Linked DNA regions of Homo sapiens: region 1 is linked to region 2. A link means that fine-mapping ties the variant in region 2 to the expression of a gene that starts in the linked region. Tissue or cell type: B cells. Region 2 holds a variant in brackets; the other region holds the start of a gene. All regions are shown on one strand. Distances are between the middles of the regions.

Region 1 (8,102 bases), 210 kb after region 2:
AGGTACAGAACCTCAGAAGGACATTTCTCAGGCTACAGTAAGAAACAAGCTCTCTGCCTCAAAAACAGCCTAGTTCAGTGGAAAGAAGGTGTTGTAATCACAAGAGCAAGGGCTTGGGAGTCAGGGACTCTGGCTTTGATTCAAAGCCTGGCCACTATCTGGCTGTGTGATCTCAGGCAAGTTGTTTACCTTCTCACAGCCTCAATCTATTAAACGGGGATAATCACCGGGTTTTAAGTTTATTGGGAGGATTAGAGATTAATGTAAAGTATATACAGCAATGTATCTGTCTGGGGTGCTCAATAATGAGCAGTTATTCATTAATTTGTAAAAATTATGTATTCCCACTTGTGTGTCCCGGGAGCAGGTGAGGGTTGCCTTTGCCTGGGCTCCTGAGCAGGAGGCAAGTCCTCTTTTAGTGCATGTGTTGGCCAGAGCTCCATCCAGATATTCACATCAGGATGAACAACCAGAAGGCTGGAAACTAGGGGTGGTTTCCTGCCTCTGCTATTAGTTAAATGTCTTTGGCAAGAAACTTAATGTCTCTGAATCCTGGTTTTCTCAATGTTTAAATGGAAGAATTAACCTTGCTCCATCATAAACTTCAAGACCTCAACTGGAATGCCTGGGCTGATGTGATTCCATGTCAAAGGGGCAAAGCACCCTGGGTTCCTGGGAAGACTTCCAGGGGCAGGCCAGGCTCTGAGCTTACTCAAAGAGGCCCCCTGGCTTGGCCATTCAGCAGTGAGTTAGGAAGAAAATAAACTCAATGATATGTGGGGTGCCACCTGGAATTCCAGAGGGGAAGAAGAGCAGGTGAAAAGCCCCTAGAAGTCCCAGAATGCTCAGAAATAGGGCCTAGCTCCCCTAACCACCTCATCTCATCCCTGCTTCCCTGGTTTGTCCCCTTTCCCCATCTCTATCTCTATCTCTCCTCCCCGACCCCCAACTTTGAAAGAGTCTGAATGATGTGTGCCTGCCCTCTCTCCCCTAATGCAGACAGCCAAGTGCTAACACTAGCAAGGTTAGTGACCTACATGAGAAGTCTGTAGAACTCACAGCAGACCCAGGCCAGGGGCATCACTATGCCCTCACCTTCTTAGCCAGTCTCAGGGCTGCAAGGAAAGAAACCCAGACAGTTGCCTCTAGCTTTGTTGTCAGTCCTGAGAAAGATCCCTGCCTTCTCGTGGCTGCCTGCAGCCCCAGCCCGGTATGCCATGGCCCCTGAGACCTCTGCTCCTCCCTTCTCTTCCAGGCAGAAGATGCATCTGCCCTGGCCTGGCATTTATGCCAGCCTGGCTTTTCCCTGCAGGCCTGTTCCCCAATTCCCTACCCTGCCTTCTTCTATGACTAGGAAGGAGTCCAGCACAGGGGTGCTGGGAAAGGGAGGGTGCTCTGAGACTCATTAACATGACAATTTGGGATGCTGGAGGAACCAACCAGGTTCCACAGCAAGCAGCAGTCCCCAGACCCAACAAGTTACATTGCTCTTTCCTGTCTCCCAGACAGACTCCAGCCAGGCTTTAGGCTGCTGACCATGAGATCCGACACCAGCCCCCAGAGTTTTCTTTCTTTAAAGAATCTAAAGCCATCCTTCAGGGATTTTTTTTTTTTTTTTTTTTTTTTTTTAGCTGTCGAAGCATAATGGGGGAAGCACCTCCCCCGTTCTCCCCTTTCACCTAAAGGAGTTAGGGAAACTGGATTTACTTGGGGAGGAGGCGGTAGGTCTTGCCTAAATCAACCTGTGCTTCCCCCTTCCCTCATACACCCATTTCAAGCAGTAACCTGAACCAGGGCTTTCTGGAAAGACAGTTTGTGCTGCAGCAGAAAGAAAAGAAGCGGCAACAAAAATCTGGTATCATCACCAGGAAGCCTGTGGCTGGCCACTGGCCGTGGGAGCCTGCAGAGCCTAGAACGCTAGGCCCTTCGTGTTTAATTCTCCTCTCACCCCAGCTGAGGCCAGGACATCCCAGGTGTGCAGGAAGCCTCAGGGGCATGGTATCCTCCCTGGCAGAAAGAATGCCTTTCTTAAACCTGGAAAGGAGGCCGGATTGTGGTCTCAGCTTTGCCTCTTCTGAGCTTAAGATGCTGAAGCCTATATCCTCCTCTCTGAAGTGCATAGTTGTGAGCACACTGAGCTGCTGGGAGGATGTAAATGAGGTGGCACGGCATGGAAGCATCTAACAAAACCCACCCTAGTTTCCTTCCTCTCAACCCTGCCTGCCCCCATCAGAAGACCAAATTCCAGCTCTTCCAGGACCGTAGTCCTGTGTGGAGTGGAGGGCAGCTGAAGATAGGGCAGCCTGTGCAGACCAAAGAAGGGGGTGGAGGAGCTGAGCTGGGCACCCCACTCACTGGAGGGGATGCGGCAAAGCAGGCAGCTGGGACTGGGTCCAAGTAGTAAGTCAAGTGTGTGCAATCTCCTGATGGAGCGTGCAGGGGAGAGGGTGGGAGTGTGTAATTCCCCTGCGAGCCACGGAGGGGGGTTGAGAGGAAGGCGGGAACAATCTGCGGTGGTAAGGTAAGTCAGGCTCGGTCCCTGCTCCTCCCGGCCCCTACCCACCACCCACCACGGACCCCTTGCAGACCCAAGATGGGGAGACACGGGCTCCTGCCACTCACCCTAGCGGCCCGGGAGGAGTAGGGATCCTCGAAGAGCGCCCACATGCGGGGCTGCCAGCCGCGGCAGCCCCCAGACCCGGCGCCATGGCCCGCGCCTCCCTCGTGGGGGCCCAGTCGCTGCAGGGCCAGCTCCCGCTCATCGTCGCCGGCCTCGTCGCTGGGCCCCGCGCCGCTGCCGCCTCCGTCCGGGCTCTCGAAGATGTCGAGCGCCTCCTCGGCGTCGCGGTGCTGCCGGTAGGTCATCCAGCAGCAGGGTTCCACGTCGGTCTCGTCGATGCCCCAGAAGGTGAGCTCCTCTTCGAAGAGCGGCCCGCACACGTCCGCGGGGCAGTGCAGCTTGCCGGTGCGGTAGTAGTTGAGCACGTAGGCGAAGACGCCCGGGTGCCTGTCGAAGAAGAACTCGCAGCCCCCGCCGCCGCTGCTGCCGCTGCTACCCACACCGCCGCCATCGGTCTCGGGCCGGCCCCCGCCGTCGGGGTCGGCCAGCCAGGCGAGGCGGGTTCCCGGTAGGGTGCGCAGGGTGCTGCGGTAGGTCTCATGTCGCGTGCCGCCCACGTTGATGATGATCTTCTCCGACGCCTCGCCCTTGGCCATCTCCTCCTTCAGACATGTTTTGGACGGAGGCTTGTTCCCCGACTTGCGCCCGCGGTAGGAGGAGACACACACCGAGCTGATCATAAGAAGCGCTGCGGGGCTCCGGCTTGGGGCGGCCGCTGCCCTCCAAACACCCTTCCCGAGGAGGCAGCGTCAGACGGGGGAGGGGGAGGAGACGAAGAGGAGGCAGGAGGCGGTGGCGGCCCCCTCTGCGGCTTGGGCTTGCCCCTGCCTATCCCCCTAGGACGCGGAGCGGGAGGAGTTGGATTTCTCCGGTACACAGGTGGTTGGGGTTAGGGCAGGAAGCTCCGGAGAGAGGGAGGCGCAGAGAGGGAGGACCCGGGGAAGTAGAAGCAAGCACACACGCGGTCCCCCGCTACGACGGGACACACAAACGCTCTGGGCCGGGGACACGCCCCCGCCTTCACCCCGACCAAAGACGAGGAAGCGCACAGTCCACGCGCACCGCGAAGGTCCGGGGCGCTCGCGCTCACACGGGCCACCCTCCGGCTCCAAGACCGCACCAAGCCCCGGAATAGCCGGCTTCCCCGCAGCGGCGGCAGCGCAGCAGCAACAAGTCCTCCGAGCGGCTGCCGGGGCCAGGCCGACACTCTCACGGCAGCCGGAGCTCCGTGGGCCCGGGCTGCTTGCGGTCAACACGAGGCGGCGGCGGCGGCATGTGGCCTCTTCCCCCCATTCATAAATCCAGCGCCGGGCGAGGAAGGCAGGCGGGGCAGAGCAGAGAGCGGCGGCCGGGCGGGCGGGGGCTGCGCAGGGCGAGGCGGCAGCTGGAAAACAAGCGCGCCCGCAGGAGCGAGCCTCGGGTCCTGCGTCCGCGGCTGGGAGCTGCGCCGGACCGGGCGCAGCGCTGCGGGGGCCGCGCTGGGGCGGGGGTGCCTCAGACGGGGCGTCCTGCGCGGCGCCGAGCCTGGGGGGCGGGGCCGCTCTGGGGAGCCGGGCTCTGGGCACTGGCGAAGGTGTACCGGGGGCGGCGGCCGAGCGGCCAAGGACACCTGCAGGCTTCCCGGGCCGCGCGGAGAGGGAGCCTCAGCGCAACGCCCCGGCGCCTGGTTCCTGCGATCTGGCGGCGCTGGGAGCCACGCCATCTACGCGTCTGCCCATCTCCGGGCGGGGCGCCGGCCTTGGCTCGCGCGCGGCAGGGGGCGGGCGCGAGGTGGCATAGGGGAGGGGGCGCCTCGGCGCCGGTGGGCTGGGGCCCTAGGGGCTCATGGTCTCCCTCCGGCGCTGGCAGCGGCCGCCACGCCCCAGTGGCGCCTTTTCCTCCGGGGCCCCGCCTCGCCCAGACGCGCCCTTCGCGGGGCGGGGTGGGCGGGGCGCGGCGCAGCGCGGGGCCGATCCGACTCACTGCAGGCCCTGGCGACCGAGCGCAGTCTTCCTCCCCGGAGCCGAGCCCCAACCAAGCGCGTCACCTCCTCGCCGCCAGTGCCCAGCCCAGCGCGCCGCCCCTGCGCGCTTCCGCCGGCAACCCCTCCCGCCCCCCTCAGCCCTGCTCCGCGCCTCCCCCGGGCCCGCAGCTCCTCCCACCGCAGCCCGCTGACACCGAAGCGCTCTCGACCCCTGACCTCTAACCTCCGCCCGGCTCTTCTTGCTTCGTCCCTCGCCCCCTCCCCGCCAAGCTGGTCGCACTGTTGCCGTTTCACTGCGGCTGACGGAAGGCCAAGGAAGAAAGAGGGTAGAGACGCTGTCGCGAGGATCAGGCTGCCCTCTCCTTTCCCAGGGACCGTGTTGGGGCCTTCTGACCACCCCGCCCCGCATCCTGCGCCTCGGAGGCCCAACGTAGCCCAAGACACCCATGGTCTTGATGCTCTCCGCCTCTGTCCCAGCCACCAAAGTCCCCGCGATGGAATGGAGGACGGGGTGGCCTTGGGCAGAGAAGCGCTTCTTGTGCCGGATGGAAGGAAACCGTAGCTCTGGCTGTGTTCATCGCGAAATGTTTTATGGATGTGGAGTGGGTGGGTGGCCCTGAAAAGTCATTAGTTAAAGCCTTTGCTCGTCATTGCTCTGGGGTCCACATAGGAAATGCCCGTGTCCTGCCTCATGACCCCTTCCTGTTTCTACTCTTATTCTACCCATTACAATTTGACTTTGCCTGTGTATATGTCTCCTCTCCCCTCCCTAACCCTGAGCTCCTGCAGGCGGCATTGTGCTTTTTCATCTTGATAGCTCCCACAGTGCCTGCCTCTGAGAACCTGTTTGCTAAGTGATTGAGAAGCTGCCATACCCAAAACGTAGGCACCAACAGGACTTTACTGGCCCTATCCCAAGAGCAATTTCCAGATTCATTTGTTTTTGTTAAGTCCAGAACCTATTTTACATCTTCATATTAATCCCCATTGGGTTTTTTTTTCTTTTTTACAGCTTCAGGCAGCCTCCATGCCTGTCTGGATGATGTAAAGAGATCTTGAGGCAGAAATGAAAGGTGAATGACACACCTGCCCTGGACACCTGTGCACCTTCCCAGTTCCAGATCAGGCAGTACCTAGCTCAACTGAGAAAAACAAGACAAGGGCCTATGTGTGTCTCAGGAAAGGTTAAAAGCTCAGTGCCAATGCAAGGGATTTTTACAAGCAAAAGTCTCATTATTAATGAGGCCAGAAAACCAAAATGACAATGATCTTTGATGATCTGTACTGACACGCAGGGGAGGTGAGTTAATCAGAAACACACATTTACTGGCACCCCCTTTGTGCCCAGTCCCTGCTCCTCGAAACTGATGTTTGTATTTCAGAGTTTAGCTGTCTTTGAGTTTGCTGCAGTGAAAAGAAATATCCCAAGTGTGACTGGGAAGAGAAGACCCGGGACAGGCCAGAAACTGGAGTGAGGAAGAAAGAACCACAGAATATTAATGTAATGAATAACTTTCAAGTCCTATCTGGTCCGTGTCCTGGCAAAGTCCCTTGGGGTCTCTCCCCTGCTTTCCGTTCATCAGGATGACTGAGCTCAGTAATTGTAACAAAGGGAGTGTAGTAGGCAAGGGGACAAAACCCATAGTATCCCACCCCTGATTGACTTATTAACTCAATGAACACTTATTGAATACCTACGATATGCCAGAAGCAGTTCCGGGTACTGGAAATACATCAGTGAATAAAACAGCCACTCATCCTAGTAAATCTGCCCAACTGGTGCTTCCACTCTGCGGTGCTTGTGGATAGTGATGAGCACCTGGGGAGATGGGTAAAGGGAGAAAGCTGCCAGGGAAAAAGGAGGCCAAGAGGGAAGGGAGGAAGATCAGAAAGTTGGGACACAGGCATAGGAACCTAGGAAGAGCTGACAAAAACAGAGGGCCCAGCCTGAGAGAGGCAGCTGGGTAAAGGTGCATGGGGCCAGGACTCCCAGCTCTGTGCACTGACCAGCTCGGGAGAGGGGAGCTCAGCCTCAGTCCTGAGGCCTCCAGAGAATGCCTCACCCTTGCTGAAGGTTTATTCTAGAACTCTGGGCTCACCTGTTACGTGTACCTCTCTGAGGGAGTCGATATGCTGCAGTTAGCACTATGGGACTTGTCCCCATCATTTCTTTGTGTGAGGTCTTGGTGTTCCCTCAAAACACAGAGCCGGGGAAGGATAGGAGAGCCCCCTGCCCAGGCTACTGTGACACAGCCTACCATGGATGTGAGGGTGCTGCCCTCTGGTGGTGCTAGAACATCCTGGCTCCAGACCTCGCCCTGAGCTCTGGGGGCTGTGATGTGGGCAGATGGGGTGGCAGCTGATTCTGGGCTTCCTGTTGATTCCAGGACCTCAGGTACATCTTCTAGCCTAACTCTGCCATTGGGACTCTGCCTACTCCCTCCCTTCTTCATTCCTCCAAGACCTTGATACCTGACAGGCTTAAGCAAGACCACAAAGCAGCCACTATTGGAAATTCCTAGTTCCCCAAGCTTCTTTCCCTCATTTTCACCTTTTCTCTTTTGTCCTCTCCTTAGTGCCCTGGCTTCTTCAGGCTGTCAGGGAAGAGCACCTGTCTGAAAGCCAGTTCACAGAAGGTGTCAGCCACAGCGGGTTTCCCTCATCAGGGGTGAGGGTGTGGTGAAAGAATAGGAAGAGAGGGCCATGGGAGATTCTAAAGGGGCACCGATGGAGGCTGTCAAGCACCTGCACCCTTTCCAGGCCCCCCCTCCACCCGCATAATAAGGTCCTCACCCTCTGAGTGCCGACGCTGACCCTGTCCGTAGGAAGCTGAAAGCCTGAAATCAAAGCCGTTTACCCTTCCCCTTTCCCCACTGGGAGCTTTGTATGGGCTCAGCCTCTTTAGGATGACTGGAGCCATCCAATCTCCTCTCCATCTTCCTTCTTTGAAACCTGTTTGTGGTGAGGGGCTCCAGGCCAAGGCAAGGTTCTATCCATTGGTGCTCACACTTTCCCTTTTTGGTATTCTAGCTCCTGCCAGGGACTGACCCTCCTTCAGGTCCAGGCCAAGGAGCCAGCATCCTTTCCCAGCATGCCTCACTCTCTCCCAGCCTGGAAAATTGAATTGCTTTATCAGACTCATTAGAGGGTGATAGGGCCTCCCCGCTCATGGGGGAACAAGAGAAGGGAAGGCAAGAGCAGGCTGGCAGCCTCCTGTCTGCGTCTCAGCTCACTTCATCCTGCCTCCCCCAACCCCAAGCAGCCTGCAGAGACTTGCAGGCTCCAAATCAAATGTGAGAGCCTTCTTTGGGGGGAGGGGGGTTGGTGGGGGAGGGGCTCTGGGGAGAACCTAGCCCTAGTAATTCAGGTCTTGTGAAGATCAGTAGAATGGCTCTGCCTCAGGACTGAAAGCAGGGTTGGGTTGCTGTGGTAATCCCAGTGAAGTTGTATCTGGGGCTCAAAGGTGGCCTTTGAAGGCCCAGCTCTTAAAGAGAAGAGATCAGAAGCTCGGGCCTGGGC
Region 2 (8,090 bases):
CTGTAATCCCAACACTTTGGGAGGCTGAGGCAGGTGAATAGCTTGAGCTCAGGAGTTCGAGACCAGCCTGGGCAACATGGCGAAACTCTGTACAAAAATACAAAAATTAGCTGTGCTTGGTGGTGCATGCCTGTAGTCTCAGCTACTTAGGGGCTGAGGTAGGGGGATTGCTTGAGCCTGAAAGGTGGAGGTTGCAGTGAGCTGAGATTGTGCCACTGCATTGAACTCCAGCCAGGGTGACAGAGTGAAATCTTGCCTCAAAAAAAAAAAAAAAAGTCATTGTCAAATATAATACCATGGACCTTTTTCCCTATGTTTTCTTCTAAGAATTTTATAATTTTAGCTCTTATGCTTAAGTCTTTGATCCATTTTGAGTTAATTTTTGTATATGGTGGAAGGTAAGGTAAGGGTTCATTCTTTTGAACATGGATATCTAGTTTTCCCAACACGATTTGTTGAAAAGACTGTGTTTTCCCCATGGAATGGTCTTGGCACCCTTGTCAAAAATCATTTGACCATATATGCAATGGCAAGTTTTATTTTTAACCTAGAAATTTTAACATTTCCTTTTAAATGACCATAAGTATTCATTTCCTCAAAATGCTCTTTGAATTAGCTTAACTACATTATTGGTTCCCTCCTTCATGAGTTGCTAAGTCTTCGGCATGTGTCCATTTTATATTTGAAGGAGGTATATTGTAAATATTTGAATATTATGCTTTTACAGTAATGTACAAAGTGTTATGGGAGTCAGGGTGAAGATCATTTCTAATGGGGGAATTCAAAAAACTTTTCACGTCCAGGCGCGGTGGCTCACGCCTGTAATCCCAGCACTTTGGGAGGCAGAGGTGGGTGGATCACTTGAGGTCAGGAGTTTGAGACCAGCCTGGCCAATATGGTGAAACCCCGTCTGTACTAAAAATATAAAAATTAGCCAGGCTTGGCGGCACGTGCCTGTAGTCCCAGCTACTTGGGAGGCTGAGGCAGGAGAATCGCTTGAACCCAGGAGGCAGAGGTTGCAGTGAGCTGAGATTGTGCCACTGCACTCCAGCCTAGGCAACAGAGTGAGACTCCTTCTCAAAAAAAAAAAAAAATTCACTTTTGAGATCGGCCTTATGATTAATGCATGAATTTTTGGTAGATAGAAATCGAAGTTTGAGGCAGACATTTCAAACTCTGGAGACAGCAGGATGAATGTTTTTCTTCTTATTTACTTTCATTATTGTGTGTCTTACTCAATCAAGTCTAATAGCTGTAGGGTCAAAGAAGGAAAGCTCCCCCTTTGCCTTCTGAAGGTCCACTGAAAATACCCTAACAAAAGGCAGATTGATAAAAGAAAAAGGCATACAAAATTCATTTAACATGTGGGGTAGGGATCATAGAAGCACGATCACACAGTCATCTAATGAGATCCAGACAGAAACTTATATACCCTTCCTCATAGGGGAGTGGGAGATGGAGAATGTTGGTAATTCTTTTGAGGAGTAGTAAATGATTCTTAGGGAGAATGAATGGGCGTAGAAGACACAAATTGACGTGTAAATGACTCTTTAGAATTTGAATGAGTTGGAGAGACAGATATTGTTTTGTGAAAATACTGTGTAGTACATTCTGTGTTACATGTTTTGTGTAAATACTGTGTAGTATGTTACATTACTGTGTAATACTGTGTATTACATTCCCCAGTCTTCTTTTCTGCCATAGATAATGAGATTTCAGGAAGGGAATGGAACGCAATTGTGTTCTCTTTGGCAGATCCAGTCTTGTGGTAGATAAGGAGATATCAGAGTAAAGCTTCTTCCAGCATCAAAGGCCTCTAACTTAAAATAACCAACATACCAAAGTGCCATATTGTAGTCACCCAGTGGGTCCTTCTTGCCCACTGCACAGATAAAGCTGATTCACTGACAGCAGTACTGCCCTAAGAAAGAGTTTAATTAACATAAGGCTAGCCACACAGAAGACAGGAGTTTATTACTCCAATCAGTTTCTCTGAGAACTCAGAGGTTAGGGTTTTTATGGATATCAATTTGGTGGGCAGGGGGCTAGGGAATGGGTGGTGCTGATTGGTTGGGGATGAAATCATAGATAGAAGTGTGGAAAACGGTCCTCTGGTGCTGTGTCAGACTGGGTAAGAACCACAGGACCAGCTGAGTCATGAGTCATGGGATCTGGGTGGAGTCAGTCACCAGAATACCAAAGTCTGAAAAAGATCTCAAAAGACCAATCTGAGGTTCTACAATAGTGATGTTATCTATGGGACCAATTGGGGAAGTTACAAATCTTGTGAGTGCCAGTGCAATAAACGATGACAGAAAGGCAAGCTATGCCTACATCTTATCAGAATTCAGGCCCCTTCCATAATCCTAATTTTGTGGCCTTTCATTAGTCTTACAAAGGCAGTTTCAGTCCCTGAACAAGAAAGGGGTCAGTTTTAGGGAGGGACAATTATGATCCTGGCTTCAAAGTTAAACCATAAATCCCTCCCAAGATTAGCTTGGCCTATGCCCAGGAATGAGACAGAACAGCCAGCCTGTGAGGCTAGAAGCAAGATAGAGTCAGCCATGCCAGGCTTCTCTCACTGTCATAATCTTTGCAAAGGTGGTTTCAACATTTTGGGGTGAACTTCCCTGGACTCCTTCATGGCCTACACAGATGGAATCATTCTACATGAGGAAACCCAGAGAAAAGTTTCTTGCCTCTCTCACATACTGTTTCTCTTCACAGCCCTTCATGAGAGACCCCTGTTACAGCTCTAGGTCAGCCCAGCCCCTCCCAAGCCCCCACCTCACCCGCTTTCCCTACCCTGCCAGAGGCTGGAAAGGGCCTCAGCCTTTCCATCAGCACTTTGGGTCATCTCTGATTCTGCCTGAGCTAGGGAATTGCATTTCCCGACTGTATCATCCCATCACATGAGACATTCATGAAATATCACCCTGACAGACTCTTAATGTTATCAGCATCAATCACAGGGATCAACGGCAAACACGCCTGAGACAGAGCAGCCATCTCTGTCCGATCCAGAGTATTATTAATTGGGAAGCTTGTTTCTGGCCGCAGAGGCTGAAATCTGCAGCCCTGGAGTGACCTTTGCTTTGGCCGCCAAGTGTCCCTGGCTGAGGCTGGCAGCAAAGCCCTCTCTTGTGGTTCTTTACTGTAGAAGGTTCTTCTGTCCCTGGCTGAAGCAAGGAGTCAGAACTGAACACTGACACATGCATTCTGAGCATCTCAGGTGTGCACATTCCTTCTTGGGTTTTTTGAAGTCACATTGTTGTGGTCCCCAGGCCTTCCTAACCCATGACAGTGGCATTTTCTGAGACTCTCAGCAGCCAGGGCAGCCTGCACTGTGGCTGGACACGCTGGATGTCCCGGTTTCCAAGGGCCCAGAGCCCATCACTGTCCTCCACCGGAAATTCACACATGGAAGTAACTGAGAGGCACCTCGGCTCACTGAGCCCCACTTGCTGGCAAGACCCACGGCCTTCAGCTTCAGCACCCCCTCCACCCTTCCTTGAGCCTCAGCTCTCCAGACACCCTGTCTGAGGCCCCCACTCATTCCAGCCCCTCAGCTGTGGTTCAGCCTCTACAACCCGTAAAAGGCACATCCTCTTGGGGTCAGCAGGGCTCTCTAAGGTGCTGACCAAGGATGGAGTGAAGCAGGGCTGTCTAGGTGGCTTTCCAGGCTGACTGATCTACGTGTACTGCGTGTGACTGACGGCAGGCCAAGCGTTGGCTGGACTGCATCTGATTTCATTCTTCACTAGCTGGGTAACCTTGGGCAAGTCAACCTCTATACACCTCAGTTTCCACATCTGTACAAAGGTTCTAATAATAACACTTACCTCATTTAACAATTAAGGCTTCTGGATAGTAAATATAAAACATGGAGTACAGAGCCTGGCAATAATTAATCCTCAACAAATGTTAACTATTTCTTGAGGGGCAGGAGGTGGATTCTGTCCTGTTTGTGTGAGTGTGTATATATAACATAAAGTCTCGGGGAAAGGAAAAGTGGAAAAAGGGCCAGAGAACTTGCTGTTCATTTCCCCAGACATTGTCTTTGCTGATCAATGTTTTTACCAACTCATAAAGGAGGTTAGTCCTCATTTCATATTCCCTTGTCCAGAGAGTGATAAACTGTCATCTCCTTAAAGTAATCTATGCTGCTTTCGAATCAGCTCTTCTCCACCTTGACAGATGGGATTAGATTCATCTCACTTCCCCTTTGGCAATTGAAAATATCAATGAGATATTAGTGTGCTTGCCTCTGACTTTCTCCTGGGGCAAAATACTGATGGTCCAGAATGAATGTGGCAGTTGATTTACTGTGTGGTGTCTGAAGGCACACAGACAAGTCCTCCTGTTGATGAGGGGAAATGGGGAGAAGGGAACCCCTAGCCACTTTATGGGACTGGCTCACAGGCCTGTGTTGTTCAAACTAGTTGAGGAGACACAATTGCAGAGGAGCCGACTCACCTGGGCCAACTCACTCAACATTGCCTGGGAGAATGGTCAGCCCCAGTATTAGAGAC[C/A]CAAGACAATGAAAATTTTCAAGTTCTATGACCTTGACCAGTTAGTTGACCTCTCCAGACCTCAGTTACTTCATTCACAAAATGGGGATAGAGTCATGGAATGACTGTGAGATTAAATGAGATAATGTCCATGAAAGTTGTCAGAATCAAAATGGAATCACTAACAAGAAACCCCTGATAAATAGAGCTAGGGAAGGCCCTGAAGAGAGCATTCTCATGCTTGTATGCCTGGTAACAAAAGCTATCACAAAAGATTGCAAAAGCCACAACCTCCTACAAAAGCCATTACAACCTTACACAAAAAAGACTTCTGCAAAGACATCTGCCCAGCAACTGCCTGTCCAACCTTGGACTCGCATCACCCTTGTTATTGATCTTTATAGCCAAGGATAATTATTTCAAAACAATTATGTAATTCTCCACATTTTTTCTGTTAAAAACCTTTGTCTTCCTCTACCTCCCTGAATACATGCATTACTAAGGCAGGCATATTCCTATGCAATGCTCTATTCCCAAATAAATATTCTTTTCTTTTATAGAGACTCTCTTTGTTTGTTATTTAGGTTGACAATGGATCTGCTTTGTAAATGTTGATTTTTCATCTTTAAGTACCAGAGTAAATGCAATGTTCTTGAATGAGATACTGACCAAACTTACAGATATTAAACTGAGGCGTGGAGAGAGGTGGCATCCATAGCAGTCAAGTAAATCAGAAAGTGCTGCCTTTGCTGCTGTTGACCGTTGTGATTACCCCAGTTTCTGCTGCCTCCTTGGGAGCTGGAATAATGCACAGGTGAAGGGTTGGAGAGGGTAAGTTTCCTATGAGATTTCCAAAGGGAATTTCTTCACTAATGAAACAATCATTCACTGAACACCTATGAGCCAGATGCTTTTCTAGGCACCATGAAGGGTAAAGACAAGACACTGAAGTTTTAAAAAGGCCCTGATTCTGGCTGGGCATGGTGGCTCACGCCTGTAATCCTAGCACTTTGGGAGGCTAAGTCGGGCAGAGCACCTGAGGTCGGGAGTTCGAGACCAGCTTGACCAACATGGAGAAACCCCGTCTCTAAAAATACAAAAAAGTTAACTGGGTGTGGTGGCGCATGCCTGTAATCCCAGCTACTCGGGAGGCTGAGGCAGGAGAATCGCTTGAACCTGGGAGGCAGAGGTTGCGGTGAGCCGAGATTGTGCCATTGCACTCCAGCCTGGGCAACAAGAGCGAAACTCCATCTCAAAAAAAAAAAAGAAAGAAAGAAAGAAAAGAAAAAGGCCTTAATTCTGAGGTTTGGTGCTTCACTATTCATCCTCCTCCCTCTCCCTCTCCCTTTCTCCCAACCAGGAGAGCTCTGTCCCTGAAAGGAATGGGGAGAGACAGATGCCTACTCTATTCAAGTCCTCTCCTAGAATTTGGTGCCTGTCAGCCAGCCGTGGTGGCTCATATCTGTAATCCCAGAAGTTTGGGAGGCCGAAGCAGGAGGATTGCTTGAAGCCAGGAGTTTGAGACCAGCCTGGGCAACAGAGTGAGATCCCCATCTCTACAAAGAAAATAAAAAAATTCAAAAGAATGTGTTTCCTGGAAACAGTAGTGCAGGCCCCAATCTCCGGGCAGGGTCATGCGTGGAAGCTGTTATTGGTAATGATCGTTGGTCTGAAAAGTTTCTCTTACCCAAAGTTCAAGTTGAGTTTTTTTTTTTTTCATTATCTCTAGCTTATTAACTATATAGAGCACAAACTCCTTCAGTGAGGAAGCCCTGTCTGAATTATTATTGCTATCTGCATAGAATTTGGCAAAGTAGGGGTAAGGGATCCATAAAGAAATGGAACTGTGGATCTACAGTGAGACTCTGAGATGCTTTATGATGACCCTTATCTCTAGGAGCACAAAGTACAATGATCAACACTCCCAAATTCCATATTAGTCTAGGCTCATGCAGGAGAGAAGGTAGAATGCACCTCTCCCGTTTGTCAAGGAGTGGAATGCTGCCCAGTAAAGTTGTTTGGAGACATTGTGGAAGAGGCTGTGGTGTCAATCCCTCCAGAGGGATTCTTGCTTTGCATGAGGCAGAACTCAGGTAGGACATTCACACTCAGAGGTGTCCTACTCAGTCTAAGCTTCTAGTGACAAAGCTTCTAATCACACATGAGGAAAATGCCCCTGCTGGTCTCACACTCTGGGAGCAAGAGTTCTCCCTCATGCAAAGCAAGAATCCTTCTGGATGCTTTCATGCTGCTCACCCGCTTTTGAATGGCTTTGCTATGTGTGGGCCACTTTCAAGACAGTTACATAGAGCAGAGCATTTTCTCTCCAGCCTCCTTTACAACTAAAGCCAGGTATGTGATCCAGGCTCCATCACTGCTGGGAAGGGCAGCAGTAGAGGCATCTGGCTTCAGGGGAAGCAGTGATTGCAGGATTACGTTCCTCCTGCAGAGGGGCATTTTCCTCATGTATGATTTGAAGCTTTGTCACTAGAACTTAGACTGAGCTCTCTAGTCCTCCCAGTTCCACAAGCTACCCAATGTCATTTTAATTAACTTCCTTTCCTATTCTTTAAACCAGCGTCAGCTTCTGTTGCTTGCAGCTAAGAATGCTGAATGCAGTCTAATCCACATTTGCCTCAGCTGTCATTTCTTGAGATCCTAATGACAACAGCTTTCATTTGTTCAGTGCTTACAATGGTGCCTGGAACTGTGCTAGGAGCTTTATATTGCATTGTCTCATGAAATTCTCATAATGACACTGCAAGGTAAGTACTGTTTCTAGTGAATTTATCTTCCCATTTATAGTGGGGGAAAACCGAGGTATCAAGGCATCAGAGGATTTGTCCACAGGCTTACAAGAGGGTACTAAAGTGTTGTGACAGTAGACCAGTTCTTGGATTCCAAGGGGAATGTGGGAGTCCGGAAGAAATCTTTGCGCTCTGCTCTCCATGCTGGGGGGTGCAGAACTCTAAGCAGGTCATTTTGTCTCCATGACATTCTCTTCTCTGAGGTAAGAATCAGTAACACCCATCTAATCTGGAGATGGTGAAATAAAGACAAAAATATTTTACTGTCCAAGAAGGATTTTTCCAGGACAACAGCAGAGGTAGTTGACAATGGTACATATTGTTACCCCACAAAGAGGGTCTCTGAAACCCACTGGGGAACATGGGGTGGAAATGGATGCAGAGCAAAAGAAGCTGCAAGCCTGAGTTTGACTAAAACCCTCAGTGCACAGGCCTGCATCACAAATACGTTTTAATACAGGTAATTTCTTTTCCATTCATTTGTAAGCACTTATTTCATTTACCCAATTCCAAGGCCAATAAATCTTGGCATTAAGGCTGATTTGATGTGTATGCTGACAGTCTAATTAAGGATAGGGTATTTTATCAGCTCCTCTAAATTTTCATTTCTCTGGTCTATGATTTTTTTATACTGGGTTGATCTTTTTTTTATTCATAAGGGCTTCATTCCCATTTGTCATGGCTGCATTAACTGGGCATCTAATGAAGACTTGGATATGAAAGTCTGCATCTCATTTATCCTCTGTAGCAAAATTAATAAAGCAGCAGGAAA

Direction of the effects. Alleles are on the strand shown, and positions count from the first base shown. SD is a standard deviation of normalised expression in the study named.
With allele C in place of A in region 2, the expression in B cells of the gene that starts at base 4,486 in region 1 is higher (large effect, 1.0 SD a copy in Schmiedel 2018).

Evidence for each region. PIP is the estimated chance that this variant, and not a neighbour inherited with it, causes the effect.
Region 1: KCNC4 starts here. The variant in region 2 is fine-mapped to the expression of KCNC4 in B cells (Schmiedel 2018, PIP 0.95).

Annotation. Positions count from the first base shown.
Region 1 is chr1:110,206,698-110,214,799 of GRCh38, reverse strand. KCNC4 (potassium voltage-gated channel subfamily C member 4) reads right to left here and starts at 4,486. Exons shown (of 4, transcript NM_001039574.3): 1 at 2,623-4,486. The coding sequence starts at 3,300. It overlaps KCNC4-DT (KCNC4 divergent transcript), which reads left to right and starts at 4,813. Exons shown (of 2, transcript NR_046546.1): 1 at 4,813-5,189; 2 at 5,596-6,350. RefSeq lists an enhancer at 2,001-2,889 and silencers at 4,127-4,806, 6,769-6,818, 6,829-6,888.
Region 2 is chr1:110,415,466-110,423,555 of GRCh38, reverse strand. LAMTOR5-AS1 (LAMTOR5 and SLC16A4 antisense RNA 1) reads right to left here. Exons shown (of 3, transcript NR_102697.1): 3 at 7,282-7,547. Among named protein-coding and RNA genes, the nearest start is that of LAMTOR5-AS1, 12 kb to the right of the region's middle. The variant C/A (reference allele first, on the strand shown) is at 4,533.